2 separate regions of the Homo sapiens genome follow, and region 1 is linked to region 2. Evidence: fine-mapped expression QTL. A gene starts in region 2. The other region holds a variant in brackets. All regions are shown on one strand. Distances are between the middles of the regions.

Region 1 (8,403 bases), 100 kb after region 2:
TCACCATGTTGGTCAGGCTGGTCTCGAACTCCTCACCTCAAATGATCCACCTGCTTTGGCCTCCCAAAGTGCTGGGATTATGAGTGTGAGCCACCACGCCCCACTCATAGCCTGTTTTTGTAAGGCCGGTTAGCTAAGAATGATGTTAACGTCTTTAAAAGGTCTTTAAAAACAACAGAAAATTCCAGAGAATATGTGACAGAGATCATACGTGACCTATAAAACCTATATTATTTACTCCCTGACCCTTTACAGAGAAAGTTTGCAGCTACTCTTTTGTAGTTTTCTGTGTATAGGTCTTACTCAGCTTTTGCTAATTTATCCCTAAGTATGTTATGGGATTTGCAAATGTTATTTTCAAATAGTTCATTGGTAGAACACAGAAAATGCATTAAATATATATGTATATATAGTACTTGTATACACACATACATATATACACACACACCTTATATTATTGGGATCTTGCTAAATTCATTGTTTATTTTTGGTAGATTTTTTTTTTTTGCAGATTCCTTTGGGTTTTCTACATGTATTTTCCATGCATCATGTATGAATAAAGTCAGTTTTACTTCTCTTTCCACCTGCATGCCTTTTATTTCTCTTTCTTACCTTCTATGTTTGCAGAGACCAACAATTGTCAGCACAGCAAAACTGGGCATTTCTTTTCTTACTGAGCTTTGCAGCTACCTACACAGTTGTGTGTGGCATCTCCTCCTGGGTGCAAGGACATGAGATGACATCAGGTGGGTGCAGGATCTATCCTGGCTTAAAAGCCTATGCCCCATGGACACCAATATCTCTGGTAATAATTTCATGGACAACTTTCAGGGTCCTGGTTGAAATGGATGACTTACCTTTCTTAAATGTCATCTTAAGTGGATGACTTAACTTTTTCCAGTCCACTATCATGGTATGCATTTTGTGTATATGTGTGTGTGTACATATAGATAGACATTTATATATATATATATGCATGTATATATATGCACATACTCACATATATGTGTATATATACATGCACATATATATCTACGTCTATCTATCTGTCTATTGGTATGTAGTAGGATACAGCAAAAATAATTGCTTTTTTATATGGCACCTCAGTAAATTCCTTTCTTATCTCTTGTAGTTTCTTTGTATATCGGGTAGTGTTTTCTACATATACAATTATGTTTTCTATGCATATTCTTTTTAATCTGTATGATTTTATTTTTCTTACCTTTTACAGTTACTGTGATCTCCAGTAAAATGTTTAATACAAGTGGAGACAATAGATAACCTTTTCCAACTCCTGATCGGGGGGTGGAAAGTGCTCAGTGTGCTATTAACTTAAGGCTTTTATAGATGTGCTTTATCATGTAAAGGCTGTTCCCTCCAATTCTTTCTATACTGAGAAATTTTTTCAAAGAGGTGTTAAATTTTTTCAACCCATGTCACAAATCTGCATATGTACTCCCCTAAACCTAAAATAAAAGTTGGAAAGAAAAATAAAACTATTACTTGAAACCCATGTTGTCATAGAAAAGATGTTTTTATAAATTAAGTAATGATTGCTTGTGAACTATTGTGTCTGGAGTCAAAGGTGTATTAAAATTAATCTCAGAACTCTTGCCATAACTACAAAAACAAATATGCCAGGCCACAAAAAAATACATGTTAAAAAGTTTTGTGCATCAAAAGACACTATCTAACAGAGTGAAAAGACAACCCAGGCAATTGGAAAAAATACTTGTAAATCATATATTTGAGAAGGGATTGATATCCAGAATTAAAATTTTTTTCAATTACTTTGTCCAAAGCTGAGATAATCATATGACTTTTTGTTTGTTCTCTTAATATGGTGAATTACATTTTAAATTTTGAGTGTTAGACCAACCTTACATATCTGAGACAAACCCTACTTGGTCATGCTAGGTCATTCTTTTCTATTTGGTTGAATTTAATTCCCAGAGATGTTGTGAAAGAATTTTATGTCAGCAGGGCGCGGTGGCTCATGCCTGTAATCCCAGCACTTTGGGAGGCTGAGGCGGGTGGATCACCTGAGGTCAGGAGTTTGAGACCAGCCTGACCAACGTGGTGAAACACTGTCTCTACTAAAAATACAAAAATTAACCGGGCGTGGTGGTGCATGCCTGTAGTTCCAGCTACTCGGGAGGCTGAGACAGGAGAATCGCTTGAACCTCCCAGGCAGAGGTTGCAGTGAGCCGAGATTGTGCCACTGCACTTCAGCCTGGGTGACAGAACGAGAAGAAAAAAAAAAAAGAATTTTATGTCTATGTTCATGAGGTTTATTAATCTATTGTGTCCCTTTCTTGCTAGGTTTTTATATTAGGGTAATGTCAGTTACACAGAATGAGTTAGGAAAAATTGCTTTCTTTATTCTCTGAAAGAGTATGTTTAATGCTGGTAAAACATCTTTCTTATATGTTTGATAGAATTAACCATTAAAATCATTCAGACCTGCAGTTTTCTTTTTGGAAAGATATTTTTAGTTCCTTTTTGTACTTTTAATAGTCTTTCAGATCTGCATTCATGCCTCATTTTTATTCATTATATTGGTAATTTTTGTTTTGTTTTTACACTTTATTGAGATATAGTTCACATATTCATATAATTTACTCATTCAAAGTGTATAATTCAGTGTTTTGTAGTATATTTATAGATATGTACAACCATTACCAGAGTCCATTTTAGAACCTTTTATCATCTCAAGAAAACCCTCTATTTTTCAGCTACGAGCCTATATCCTTCAACCCTTGGAAGCCACTGATCTGCTTTCTGTTTCTATGGATCCCCTGTTCTGGACATTTCATATAAATGGAACTGTATGATATATGGTCTTTTGTGTCTGGCTTTTTTCACTTGGCATAATGTTTTCAAGATTCATCCATGTTGTAGCATGGGTGTTTTTATGGCTAAATAATATGTGTTTTTATGACCAAATAACATTCTATTATATGGATGTACCGCTTTTGTTTACCCATTAATCACCTGGGCATTTGGATTGTTTCTACCTTTTAGCCATTATGAATAATGCTGCAAACACTCATATACAAGTTTTTGTGTGGGCATGGGTTGCTTTCATTTATCTTGGGTACATGCTTTGAAGTAGAATTACTAGGTAATACAGTAACTCTTTTTGATAGTTTGAGAAACTGACAGATTGTTTTCCAAAGTGGCTACACCGTTCAACATTCCCACCAACAGTGTTTGAGGTTCCAGGTTCCAATTTCCCCAGGTTTTTGCCAACACTTTTTGTTATCTGACTTTTTGATTCTAGCCATCCTAGTGGGTATGAAATGGCACATCATTGTGGTTTTGACTTGCATTTCTCTAATGACTAATGTTTCTAACCATCTTTTTGTTTGCAAATTGACCATTTTTATGTCTTCTTTGGAGAAATGTCTATTCGTATCCTTTGCTTATTTTTAAATAGGTTTTTATCTTTTATTATTGAGTTGTAAGAGTTATACATTAGGAGTACAAGCCTCTTACCACGTATATGATTTGCAAATATTTTTTCCCATTCTATGGGTTTTACTTTCAATTTCTTGATGCTATCTTTTGAAGCACAAAAGTTATTCATTTTGATGTGGCAAAACATTTATCTAGTTTATCTTTTGCTTGTTATTTGCTGCCACATCTAAGAAACCATTCCCAAAATCAATGTCATGAAGCTTTTTCTATATGTTTTCTTCTAAGAGTTTTATAGTTTTAACTCTTAATTTATGTAGTCAATTCACCTTGAGTTAATTTTTGTATATGGAGCAAGGCAATGGTCCAACTTTATTCTGTTGCATGTTACTATCCAGTTGCCCCAGCACTATTTGTTGAAAGATTACTTTTCCCCCATTGAATGGTCTTAGCACCTTTGTTAAAAAATCAGTTGACGAAAGATATATGGGTTTTGTACTTGTACTAG[G/T]TCCAAAATGGTAGAGTAGAAGCAAGCTGGCTTCACTCTCACCACAGAAACAGAAACAAATATCCAGCACAAAGATAATCACCAGCAATATCCCAGAACTCAAATGAGAGGGTCTCCTGGGCAGAAACCCCTAGTCAGCCTTCCCACCCTGCCAGGGTAGCCCCTTTCGGACCTCCCTCATTCAGGATGGGCAAAGCTCAAAATGTTCACTAGAGCAAAGACACACCTGGGCTTAAGGTGCCACCTAGCACCATAAAGGAGAGAGTGACCTAGTGAAGAAGATACTCAACAGATAAACTACAAAGAATCTCTAAGCAAACATATCTAAGAAAAACAAAAACAAACCAGACAGAGAAAGCTGGAATAACTAACACATCCTTCAATGCAAAGACATAGATGTAGATCCATAAGAAACAACAGCAGACAGGGAACCATGACCTCCCCAAACGGACAAAGTAAGGAGCCAGTGACCAATCCTAGCAAGATGACAATAGGCAAACTCTATGATCAGGAATTCAAAACAGCAATTTTAAGGCAACACAGTGATTTCCAAGATAATACCGAAAAGCAATTCAGAAATTTATCAGAGAAATGTAACAAAATGATTGAAATAATTAAAAAATCAAACAAGATTTATGGGTTTATTTCATGCAATTGTAGACAATTCTATTTTATTGATCTATATGTCTATCCTTGTGCCAATACCACACAGTCTTGATTACTATTGCATTGCAATAACTCTTGTTTTCTTTTGTTTTGTTTTTGTTGTTTTTGAGACAGGGTCTTGCTGTGTCATCCAGGCTGGAGTGCAGTGATATGAGCATGGCTCACTGCAGCCTCGACCTCCCAGCTTCAAGCAATGCTCCCACCTTGGCCTCCCAAAGCGCTGGGATTACAGGCATGAGCCACCATGCCTGGCCATTGCCATTGCAGTAAGTTTTGAAATCAGTAAGTGTGAGTTCTCCTACTTTGTTTTTTCTCTTTCTTTCTTTCTTTCTTTCTTTCTTTCTTTCTTTCTTTCTTTCTTTCTTTCTTTTCTCTTTCTTTCTTTCCTTCTCCTTCCTTCCTTCCTTCTTTCCTTCCTTCCTTCCTTCCTTCCTTCCTTCTTTCTTTCTTTCTTGCTTTCTTTCTTCTTCTTTTTTATTTTTTATTTTTATTTGAGATGGAGTCTCACTCTGTCACCAGGCTGGAGTGCAGTGGCATGATCTTGGCTCACTGCAACCTCCGACTCCCTGGTTCAGGCAATTCTCCTGCCTCAGTCTCTCGAGTAGCTGGGATTATAGGCATGTGCCACCACGCCTGCCTAATTTTTATATTTTTAATAGAGACGGGGTTTCACCATGTTAGCCAGGATGGTCTCGATCTCTTGATCTTGTGATCCGCCCGCCTTGGCCTCCCAAAGTGCTGGGATTACAGGCACGAGCCACCATACCTGGCCTAGTTTTTGTATTTTTAGTAGAGACGGGATTTCACCATGTTGGTCAGGCTGGTCTCGAACTCCTTACCTCAGGTGATCTGCCCGCCTTGGCCTCCCAAAGTGCTAGAATTACAGGCGTGAGCCACTGCGCCCGGCTGTTTTTCTTTTTCAAAATGTTTGGCTACTTAGGATTCCTTGCAATTCCATATGAATTTTACAATCACCTTATCACTTTCTACAAAGTGGTCAGCTGGGATTCTGCTAGAGACTGCTTTGAATCTGTAGATCAGTTTGGGGAATATTGTCATCTTAAACAATATCAAGCCTTCTTATTCGTGAATGTGCATTCTTTTTCCTATTCTGTAGATATTTTTGACTCTCTTTAAACAATGTTTTGTAGTTTTCAGAGTATATGTTGAAAATGTTTTTGTTAAATTTATTCGTAAATGTTTTACTCTTTATGATGTTACTGTAAATGAAATTGTTTACTTAATTTTAGTTTTGGATGATTCATTGCAAGTGTATAGAAATACAATTGATTTTTGTATATTAATTTATATCTTATAATACTGCTGAACTAGTTTATTAGTTCTAATAGATTTTTCATTGGATTCTTTTGGACATTCCCCACAAAATAACTCTAATCTGCAAATTTCTCTAGCTAAAGACTCAAGTACAATAATAAATAAAAGTGATGAGAGTAGACATTATAATCTTGTTTTTTTGTTTTGTTTTGTTTGTTTGTTTTTTTGAGACAGAGTCTCACTTTGTCACCCAGGCTGGAATGCAGTGGCACGATTACAGCTTACCACAGCCTTGACCTCCTGGGTTCAGGTGATCCTCCCACCTCAGCCTCCCAAGTAGTTGGGACTACAGGTGCCCACCACCATGCCTGGCTAATTTTTTTGTAATTTTTGTAGAGACAGGGTTTTGCCATGTTACCTAGGCTGGTCTTGAACTCCTGGGCTCAAGCGATCTGGCTGCCTCAACCTCCCAAAGTGGTAGGATTACAGACATGAGCCACTATGCCCAGCCTATAATCTTGTTTGTAAACTTAGAGGGAAAGCATCCAAATTTAATCATTATGATGTTTGCCGTGGGTTTTTTGTACTTGCTCTTATCAGGTTGAGGAAGTTCATTTTTATACTACTTTGTTGAGTTTTTAAAAAATTATTATTATGGCCAGGCATGGTGGCTCACACCTGCAATCCTAGCATTTTGGAAGGCCAAGGCCAGCAGATTGCTTGAGTTCAGCAGTTTGAGAACAGCCTGGGCAACATGGCAAAACCCCATCTCTATATTAAAAAATAAAAATAATTTAAAAAATTATTATTATGAAAAGATGTTGAATTTTGTCATATGTTTCTTCTGCATGTGTTGAAATGACCATATGATTTGTTTTTTGTTCTACTGATATTATGTATTACAATAGTTTATTTTTGGATGTTAAACCAACCTTGCATTGCTAGCATACATTCTTTTTATATATTGCTGGGTTTTGTTTACTAGTATTCTGCTGAGAGTTTTGCATCCATATTCATAAGAATCATATTGGCCTGTACTTTACTCTTCTTATGATGTCTTTGTCTTGTTTTGGTATCAAGGTAATACTGGCTTCATAAAATGAGTTAACTGTCCATAAAATGAACAGTTCACAAAGAATTGGTATTAATTCTTTGTTAAATGTTTAGCAAAATTCAGCAGTAGAGCCATCTGGACCTGGAATTTTTTTTTTTTTTTCAGATGGAGTCTTGCTCTGTTGCCCAGGCCGGAGTGCAGTGCAGTGGAGTGATCTTGGATCACTGCAGCCTCCACATCCTGGGTTCAAGCAATTCTCCTGCCTCAGCCTCCTGAGTAGCTGGGACTACAGGCATGCACCACCACACCTGGCTAATTTTTTTGTTTTTGGATTTTTAGTAGAGATGGGTTTCACCATGCTGGCCAGGTTGGTCTTGAACTCCTGACCTCAAGTGATCTGGGTGGCTTGGCCTCCCACAGTGCTGGGATTACAGGGGTGAACCACTCCTCCTGGCCTGGACCTGGAATTTTTTGTGGGTGGTTTTTTGATTATGAATTAATTACTCCTCACTTGTTGTATGCCTATTAGATTATCCTATTTCTTCTCAAGTTAGCTTTCATAGTTTCTGTGATTCTAGGGATTTGTTCATTTCACCTAAATTATATTATTTCTAGGTATAAAATTGTTCATAGTATTCCTTTATAGTTCTTTTAATTTCTATAATGTTGATAGTAATGTTTCCTCTTTCATTTCTGATTTTGGTAATTTGAATCTTTTCTCCTTTTATCTTGGTCAGTATAGCTAAATGTTTGCCAATTTTTTATCGAATGGACTGATATTTTATTATTGAGTTGTAGCAGTCCTTTGTTAGACACATATTTTGCAAATATTTTTTCTTGTTATAGTTTACCTTTTCATTTTTTGAATTCTGCCTTTTTTGAACAGTATTTTTTTTTTTTTTTTTTTTTGAGATGGAGCCTCACTCTGTCGCCCAGGCTAGGGTGCAGTGGCACGATCTCCACTCACTGCAACCTCCCCCTCCTAGGTTCAAGCGATTCTCCTGCCTCAGCCTCCTGAGTAGCTGGGACTACAGGCATACACCACCATGCCCAGCTAATTTTTTTGTACTTTTAGTAGAGACAGGATTTCACCATGTTGGCCAGGATGGTCTCGATCTTTTGACCTTGTGATCTGCCCGCCTCGGCCTCCCAAAGTGCTGGGATTACAGGGGTGAGCCGTGCCCAGCCTGTTTTGTTTTGAGACAGAGTCTTGCCCTGTCTCCCAGGCTGGAGTGCAATGGCACAATCTCGGCTCACTGCAACCTCTGCCTCCTCCCGGGTTCAAACGATTCTCCTGCCTCAGCCTCCCGAGTAGCTGGGATTACAGGCGCCTGCCACCACACCCAGCTAATTTTTGTATTTTTAGTAGAGACAGTTTCACCATGTTGGCCAGGATGGTCTCAAACTCCTGACCCCATCGTCTGCCCACCTCGGCCTTCCAAAGTGCTGGAATTACAGGCGTGAGCTACCACGCCCAGGCTGA
Region 2 (8,255 bases):
GAGCAGGGCCTGGCGTACAGGAGGTGCTCCGTGAGCACATACTGTTGGGGATGGCCTGGGTGATCGGCCCTCCTTCCCCGCCCCCCATAGAACTTGGGTTCCAGCAGGTGCACGACTCCTTGGACCCTGCAGGTCTCCAGGGCAGCAGCCTGGAGTGTGGGCCCCACAGTCCAAGGACCTTCCAGTCAAGTGCCACCGCGTCCTTTCTGTGTGACCCTGAGCTAGTGTCTGAACCCTCCTGTGCCTCAGTTTCCTCTTGGGTATGATGGGAATTAGTGCCCACCTCCTAGGGTTGCACAGAGATGGAGGTGAGGTGAGATCCACAAAGCCCAGTACCTGGAGGGCACCTGGTTTAACTACGCTGCTTTCCCTCCCACAGGGACTGGCGGACTAAGATGGAGTGTACAGCGCGGCTGCCAGCCCAGTGCACCACTGCCCATGACGCTCTGCTGACCCTGACAGGGACCTCACAAGCACTACGCCTGATGTTAGGCGCCTCCATGACTGACCCTCAACTCCAGCCTTTCACCTCTAAATACCCTGCACCCGCCACAAGGAAGTGAGCAAAGCCCATACAAGCCCCTGCCTGCAAGGACCTGACGCTGAAACAGGGAAACATAGACCGTCAGTAAGAAAACAAGTGAGCAGGGATGGCGACCTCAGACACTGGTGAACGCCATAAAGCAATGCTGCTCAGTATGAGCCCCAGAGAGCAGCAGGCAGGACTTGGAAAGTGTTCAAAAGGCAGAGTCCAGGACCCACTCCCAACCTTCTGAATCAGAACTGGGGTGGGGCCAGAGATTCCGACGCACATTCAAGTTTGAGGACCACAGAGATAAGGGATGGGACAACTAGGGGGGCAGAGATGCTTTTTAAATTTTTTTTAGAGACACGGTCACACTCTGTCACCCAGGCTGCAGTACAGTGGCAAAATCATGGTTAACGGCAGCTCCGAACTCCTGGGCTCAAGGAATTCTCAATCCTCAGCCTCCCAGGTCACTCCAGGCCCGAACTCTTGGGCTCAAGCGATCCTCCAGCCTTAGCTTCCCTGATAGCTGGGACTACAGTCTCACACCACCATGCCTAGCTGATTTTTAAAGTTTTTTTGTAGTGATGGGGTCTTGCTATGTTGCCCAGGCTGGTCTCAAACTCCTGACCTCAAGTGATCCTCCCACCTTGGCCTCCCAAAGTGCTGGGATTACAGGCATGAGCCACTGTGCCCAACCAATTTCTTTAGTAACAGTCAGCAAAAGCCTTCCTGAACAAAGCCCACTTGTTCACCTGAGGACAAAGAACACATGTGGCAAAGGCTGGGAGAAGACTCCAGGTGGAGAACATCAAGCTCAGGGACAGGACTGAGCCTGGCAGGTCTGAGTGTGAGTGAGGTGGCCAGTGGGGCTGAGGGAGTAGCGGAGGTGCACAGGCCTGGTGACCCTAGTCAGGAGTTTGGCTTCACCCAGACAGCACTGGTGAGCAGGGAGAGACTCCTAAGCAGCAGGACCACATCCTCCCCTGCCTGCTTTTCTCAGCCCTCTAGCCTGAAACACAGACCTGCCCTACTTTCCCGCAGCCACAGATCTAGGGGCAGGGCCTGGGGGCCGGAATCCTGAAGAGAGGCTCAAGGCACACAGACAGGGCAGGGACCACGCCCCCAGTTTTTGCTCCAGGGCTGGGCAAAGAGGAAGTACTCAAGGGCGGACCCTGCGGCTGCCCAACCAGGATAGCTGAAGGCAGAGTGAAGGGAGGAGCCTGGGGGACTGTTATAGGGGCGAGGAGACTCGGAAGGGATGTTGTTTTGCTTCCGCAGACACCTGACCTCCAACTTCCTAGGCCCCAGTGGACCCAGAGCAGCCTCTGGTCAGAAAAGGGCGGATGCATCCACAGGTGTGCATAAAAGGGAAACTCAATGATTGTCACACAGTAGGTGTCAGGGGTAAACTGCATTTCCCTACAATTGCAAGGAGTCTCTTTCCTCTCTCTCTCTCTCATATGCACACACACACACACACACACACACACACACACACGCACAGAGCAACAGCATCATAGGTATGCTACAGAGAGCCACAGAGTAATTACACACACACACACACACACACACACACACACCTGCAGCATTGCTAGTCTGCTACAGTCACATGGCAATTTCCCAGAAAAGTTATCCAGACACATGCATGTGTGCACACAGACACAGAGCTGCAGAGGGTCACAGAAACATACAGCAACCCACAGAAAGTCCCGGATAAATTATATTCACACACATAGCCACGAGGAAGTCTCAGCAAAGAGCCAAAGACAGCCATACAGTGAAAGACCAGTCCCAAAAGACCCCAGGTGACACATACATAGTCCCAGGTAAATCAGGTCCCACGGTCAGCCAACACATCCCCACTGAGTTGTTCCCGTGCCCGCACTGGGCTCACCATCTGGCAGGGAAGACAGAGAAAAGGCTACTTCTAAAGTGGCAAGGGGCTGGGCGCAGTGGCTGATGCCTGTAATCCCAGCACTTTGGGAGGCCGAGGCGGGTGGATCACCTGAGGTTAGGAGTTTGAGACCAGCCTGGCCAACATGGTGAAACCCCATCTCTACTAAAAATACAAAAATTAGCCAGGTGTGGTGGCACGCACCTGTAATCCCAGCTACTAGGGAGGCTGAGGCAGAAGAATCGCTTGAACCCAGGAGGCAGAGGTTGCAGTGAGCCGAGATCGTGCCACTGCAGTCCAGCCTGGGCGACAGAGCGAGACTGCGTCTAAAAGAAAGAGAAAAAGGAAAAGAAAAAGTAAAGTGGCAAGGGGTGGAGGTGTCAGTGGCTGTAGCTGGTGGAGAGCCCTGATGCTCACAGTCAAGCAGGACTTGGGAATAATGCAGCCGAGCAGGGCGTGGATCTCGAGGACACAGTGGCCAGGTAGTGGAATAATGCGTGGCACATGCTATACTAACTGTAACAGGTGGACAACGTCAGTTATCATTATTGCCTCCAAAGTGCCCTGGGTACTCCCAGGGTCTTAGAAGGGAGGGTTCCAAGCCTACAGAGAGCCACAAGGGGTCTCACACTGTTCACACACACACAAAACCACAGAGGGTCTCAGCTGTACACAGAGAGGCCTAGGCACCACTCAATACTGTCACAAAGGAATACACAAGGGAATGTTCACACAAAGATGGAATCAAATTAAGTTACAGCCACACTCACAGAGCCCCAGACACACAACAATGTCACAAATGTAACTTACATTGGCACACAGAGCTAAATGAGAGTTTCAAGCCAGGCGCGATGGCTTAAGCCTGTAATCCCAGCACTTTGGGAGGCCGAGGTGGGTGGATCACCTGAGGTCAGGAGTTCGAGATCAGCCTGGCCAACATGGTGAAACCCCATCTCTACTAAAAATACAAAACTTAGCCAGGCGTGGTGGCACACGCCTGTAATCCCAGCTACTCAGGAGGCTGAGGCAGGAGAATTGCTTGAACCCAGCAGGAGGAGGTTGCAGTGGGCCGAGATCGTGCCACTGCACTCTAGCCTGGGCGACAGAGCCAGACTCTATTTCAAAAGAAAAAAAAAAAAAGAAGAGCGTTTCAGAGCTAAATTACAGGCATATGCAGGCACAGAGGGTCATGGTAGAACCCAGAGCCCCAGGCACACTTGTACACACACCACTAAGTCACAATGGGACGCACACTGGTAACTTACAGCAACGCTTGGAGCTACAGATAGAATTAATGGTAAAACACACACAGCCCAAGAAGGATCAGAGCTGCTACACACGGTAACTCCAGACACATGTACAAACACTCCAACGTCACACTCAGACACACAGGGGTAATTTATATTTGCACAGGGAGCTACAGATGGAATGAGACACAACACGCACACAACCAGCTGCTCACAGCCACAGATTTGGAGCCCCAGACACACACAGGTAACTTACAGTGACACACAGAGCCGCGGTCAGAATTAGTGGTTAAGTTACACGCAGGAACTCTATCAGAGGCCCAAAGCTGCTGCAGGCTAGCAGCCCCAGACACACGTACACACACTTGCAAGACAATTCACAGTCGGAAGCACATGCGCCCACCTGGACCGGAAGGGGAGTAAGAAGTCAATTCCGAGCACACAGGACCCCCCGCCCTCCATGACCTCAAGCACGCGGTCCTGGAGAGACGCAGGAAGCCCCCACCCCCGGCAGCCCCGAGACCCGCAACAGCCAAGGACGGTGGGAGGGGGCCCAGGCAGGAGGGGGCTGCCTACTCCCGGCGCGCCCAGGGCTCCGCGGCCTGTGGGCCTGGGCTGGTCCCGATCCTGTCTCCATCCCAGGCCGGAGCCCCAGTTCGGCCTCGCGCTCACCCCTGGCTTACCAGGCAGGGGGTTGCCAGGCCTGAGGGCCCTCCCCGCCAGATGAACCCGCGGGCCCCCAGCCAAACCCCGCAACCCAGTGCGTCGCGGGCCGGCAGTGGCGACCCAGACCCCGGGCCCTGCCCTGCGTCCGCGCCCCACTCCCCAGCTGCACCCCTCGCCCGGGGGCCCCCTGCCCCGCCCCCACCCCGATCGCCCCGGCCAGAGCCATGTGCAGAGGCCCCCGACCTCTGCAGCGGCCGCTCCGCCCCCTCCCCAAGCCCGCGGCGCCCCCTCCCTCCGGTGGCCTCCCCCGCGCGCCCGGTCCCTGAGCTCTAGTCGCCCGGTCCTTACTCGAACATGGATGCGGCGCGGTGGGCGCGCCCCGGGCGCAGGGCAGGGCAGGGCAGGGCAGGGCTGGGCTGCGCGGGGCTGGGCTGCGCTGGGCGTCCCCGCAGGGCACCGGCCTGGCCTTCCGCGGCCGCCGCCCCCACCCGACCCAACCGCCCGCACAAAAGGCCGGAGCCGCCGGAGGCCGCCGCGGCGTCAGCGACACCCCCTTCCTTCCCCCGCCCCGCCGCGTCACGGCGCCGCCCCCAGCCCGGGAGGGAAGGCGGGGAGGGGCCGCAGAGGCCTAGAAGGAGGGAGAAGCCGGGGAGAGAGGGACTGGACAGAGAAGGGAAAGCAGAGGGGCAGAGAGACAGAGAAGGAAACAAAGAGACTTTATTAAAACCAAACATCGTGGAGGCAGCTGCCTGCCCGCAGGTTGGGGAGCCCCCTCCCCTAGTACCTAGAAAAGGGTCCCTAGCAACTACTATGCCCCTGGCCAGAAGCTCCTGGACCTCCCAGGGAGGAACCTGAGAGCCGGGGCGAAGGTGGGGGAGGACTGGAGATGCTGGGAAACCGAGGTGTATGTATGGGGGAGGGGGCCTGAAGCTGGCGGGAAGGGGTGGGGCCGGTTGGCCGCCTCCTCCTTCCCTCTCCCAGTCTCTGAGCCCGGGTTCCTGGTCCCAGGAGGTCCGGTGCCTCCGTTTCTAGGGACTTCCCAGTTTTGGTCAGCCAGGCCAAGTACCAAGTCAGAATCCAGCCTCCCTGGCTCTTATCTGTGCTGAGACCTTGCGCTCATCACCCCAGTGCTGGGAGTCCCACTAACTCGGTGGTAAGGGCTTTTCCCGGGGACAGCGCAGGAACGGGCAAAATCAGTCCTTTTACGGAAGGAGAAGCCCGGCCTCTAAGATGGGAAGTGACTTGTTGGGGTCACCTGGTAGGTAGGCGGCAGAGTTGGATTCGATCCTGCTCTGACGCCATAACCTGCGTCCCCCCTCCCCCGCCCCGTCTGCAAGAGGTCAGAGTCAGGTGGTGTCCTGGACTCCTGGCCCAACCACACAGAAATGCGAGTCCCACCTCACAGCTCCGGGGCTGTGGCTCCCCAGCGCTCTCCAGGGTACGCTGTCCCCGCCTCTTTTGAAAAAACTCCCTTCCCAACCCTCTCCATCAACCCTTCCCCTCCTCCTGCAAAAGAAGCCCACCTGACTTCTCCATTTTGATGAATGGCAGGCCCAGAACTTCAGAGTCTTTTCTGACCCTCTCTTTTCCTTCACACCACATCCAATCCGTCACAAACTGTGGGCTCCACGTATAAAATCAATCGCTCCATTCTAAACTCTTCTTCCTCCGCTGCCCACGCCCTGGCCCAGCCTCCATCCTCTCCTGCCTGATCTCCCTGCTCCCATCCCTGCCCCTACTGTCTGTTCTCACCTGCAGCCAGAGAGAGCCTGGGACCACCTGAGTCAGTTAACTACCCTCCTGGCTCAGAGCCCTGCCCCAGCTGTACCTCACTCCAGGTAAAAGCAAAGTCCTCACCTTGGCACCCAAGGCCCCTGTCAGCTCTCTGACTTCAGCTCCTCATCTCCCCCTGGCTCACACCCCCCATCCAGCCTACCCGCTGTTCTTCTAACTCACCAGGCACCTTCCTGCCTCCTACCCCAAGACCTTTGCACTGGTTATTCCCTCTGCATGGACAGCACCCCCCCTATCGCCGTGCCCTACCTCTCATGCTAACCCCCACCTCTAAAACCCCCATCCACCATCTGACATTTGCTGCCTCCCACCGGCCAATGGAAGAGAGGCCCTCCTCCCACCACCTTCCTCTGTCCAACTGATCTCTTTAGATTTCTCTTTGGTCTGTTTCTTCTAGTGTAATGCTTTTAGTTTTTTAATTAAATAATATTTATTTCAGGTCAGGCGCGTTGGGTCACGCCTGTAATCCCAGCACTTTGGGAGGCCAAGGAGGGTGGATCACCTATCAGGAGTTCGAGACCAGCCTGGCCAACAGAGTGAAACCCCATCTCTATCAAAAATACAAAAAAATTAGCCAGGTGTAGTGGCTTGCACCTGTAATCCCAGCTACCCAGGAAGCTGAGGCAGGAGAATTGCTTGAACCCGGGAGGTGGAAGTTGCAGTGAGCCAGGATCGCACCACTGCGCTCCAGCCTGGACAACAGAGCAAGACTCCATCTCAAAAAAAAAAAAAAAAAAAAAAAGGAAGAAAATATAACAGTCCTCTATGTCCCCTGTACCTATATAGAATAGATGTGGACATTTTGCCATTTTGCTTCAGGTCCTTTTTTTAAAAGAAATAAATGATTACACTTACAACCAAAGGCCTGGCTCCCCATCCCTCCTTTCCCTTCCCGTGCCCCCCAAGGAGCCTTCTGCCTGCCATGCAGTTGGTGTGTTTCCTTCCTGCGCTTTTTTTTTTTTTTTTTTTTGAGACAAGGTCTTGCTCTGTCGCTCAGGCTGGAGTGGTGCAGTGGCTCGATCTTGGCTCACTGCAGCCTCCACCTCCTCGGTTCAAGCGATTCTCTTGCCCCAACTTCCTGAATAGCTGGGATTACAGGCATGCGCCACCATGCCTGGCTAATTTTTGTATTTTTAGTAGAGATGGGGTTTCACTGTGTTGGTCAGGATGGTCTTGAACTCCTGATCTCAGGTTAATCTGCCCGCCTCGGCCTCCCAAAGTGCTGGGATTACAGGCATGAGCCAGCACGCCTGGACCCTGTGTACTTTTCTGTCCTTTTTCTACATCAGGAGGCATCCACCAACACTATCACCTATTATCCAGTATCTTTTTAAAAAGATACACGATTAGGCTCCCTCTGTTTCATTTGCAACTTGCTGTCCCCCATTATCATTGTTTCTGCGATTTCTCCACATCCATGCACAAAGCTCTGCTTCCTAAACTTTAACGCTTATGGAGTGTCCCTTGTTGGAAGAAACCACAGTGGCTGCTTGTTCTATTCAGGGTCGGTAGAGTTCTTTCCTCTTCCCCCTATGGCCCTGAACCTCCCATTTCCTGTCTCCTTGTACCAGAGATAGTGTTTCTTTTCAGAAGTTTTGTTTAAACTTTCTTTTTTTCTTTGTTTTTCTTCTTCTTCTTTTTTTTTTTTTTTTGTTTTTTTGGCCTGTGATCTACAGCAGGAAATACCTTTCACATGGGCTTCCAGCACGCACTTAGAAATACACATAATGCCACAGAAGTTGTAAGAAACCACACTTACCCTCATTAGGCCTCACGCATGGTGTTATTTGCAATTCTATTTTATTTTGATTTGGATAAAGAAGTGCTGATTGCGGCCGGGTGCCTCATCTCACAATCCCAGCACTTTGGGAGGCCGAGGAGGGTGCATCACCTGAGCTCAGGAGTTCAAGACCAGCCTGGGCAACATGGTCAGACCTCGTCTCTACTAAAAATACAAAAAAAATAGACAGGTGTGGTGGTGCACATCTGTGGTCCCAGCTGCTGGGTGGAGGGGGGAGCAATGGAAGTTGCAGTGAGCCAAGATCATGCCACTGCACTTCAGCCTGGGTGACAGAGAGATGCTGTCTCAAAAAGAAAAAGACAAAAAACAAAAAACAAGGGCTGA

The links. PIP is the estimated chance that this variant, and not a neighbour inherited with it, causes the effect. A credible set is the group of variants that fine-mapping cannot tell apart.
Region 1: its variant is the best candidate, but not a certain one, in a credible set for the expression of GRAMD1A in whole blood (INTERVAL, PIP 0.58).

What each region holds. Positions count from the first base shown.
Region 1 is chr19:34,895,308-34,903,710 of GRCh38, reverse strand. LINC00904 (long intergenic non-protein coding RNA 904) reads left to right here. Exons shown (of 6, transcript NR_187844.1): 3 at 628-746; 4 at 4,706-4,873. Among named protein-coding and RNA genes, the nearest start is that of LINC00904, 5.6 kb to the left of the region's middle. The variant G/T (reference allele first, on the strand shown) is at 3,926.
Region 2 is chr19:34,996,916-35,005,170 of GRCh38, reverse strand. It overlaps GRAMD1A (GRAM domain containing 1A), which reads right to left and starts at 4,848. Exons shown (of 20, transcript NM_020895.5): 1 at 4,685-4,848. The coding sequence starts at 4,692. RefSeq lists enhancers at 1-394, 395-940, 6,788-7,463 and silencers at 4,234-4,363, 4,634-5,013.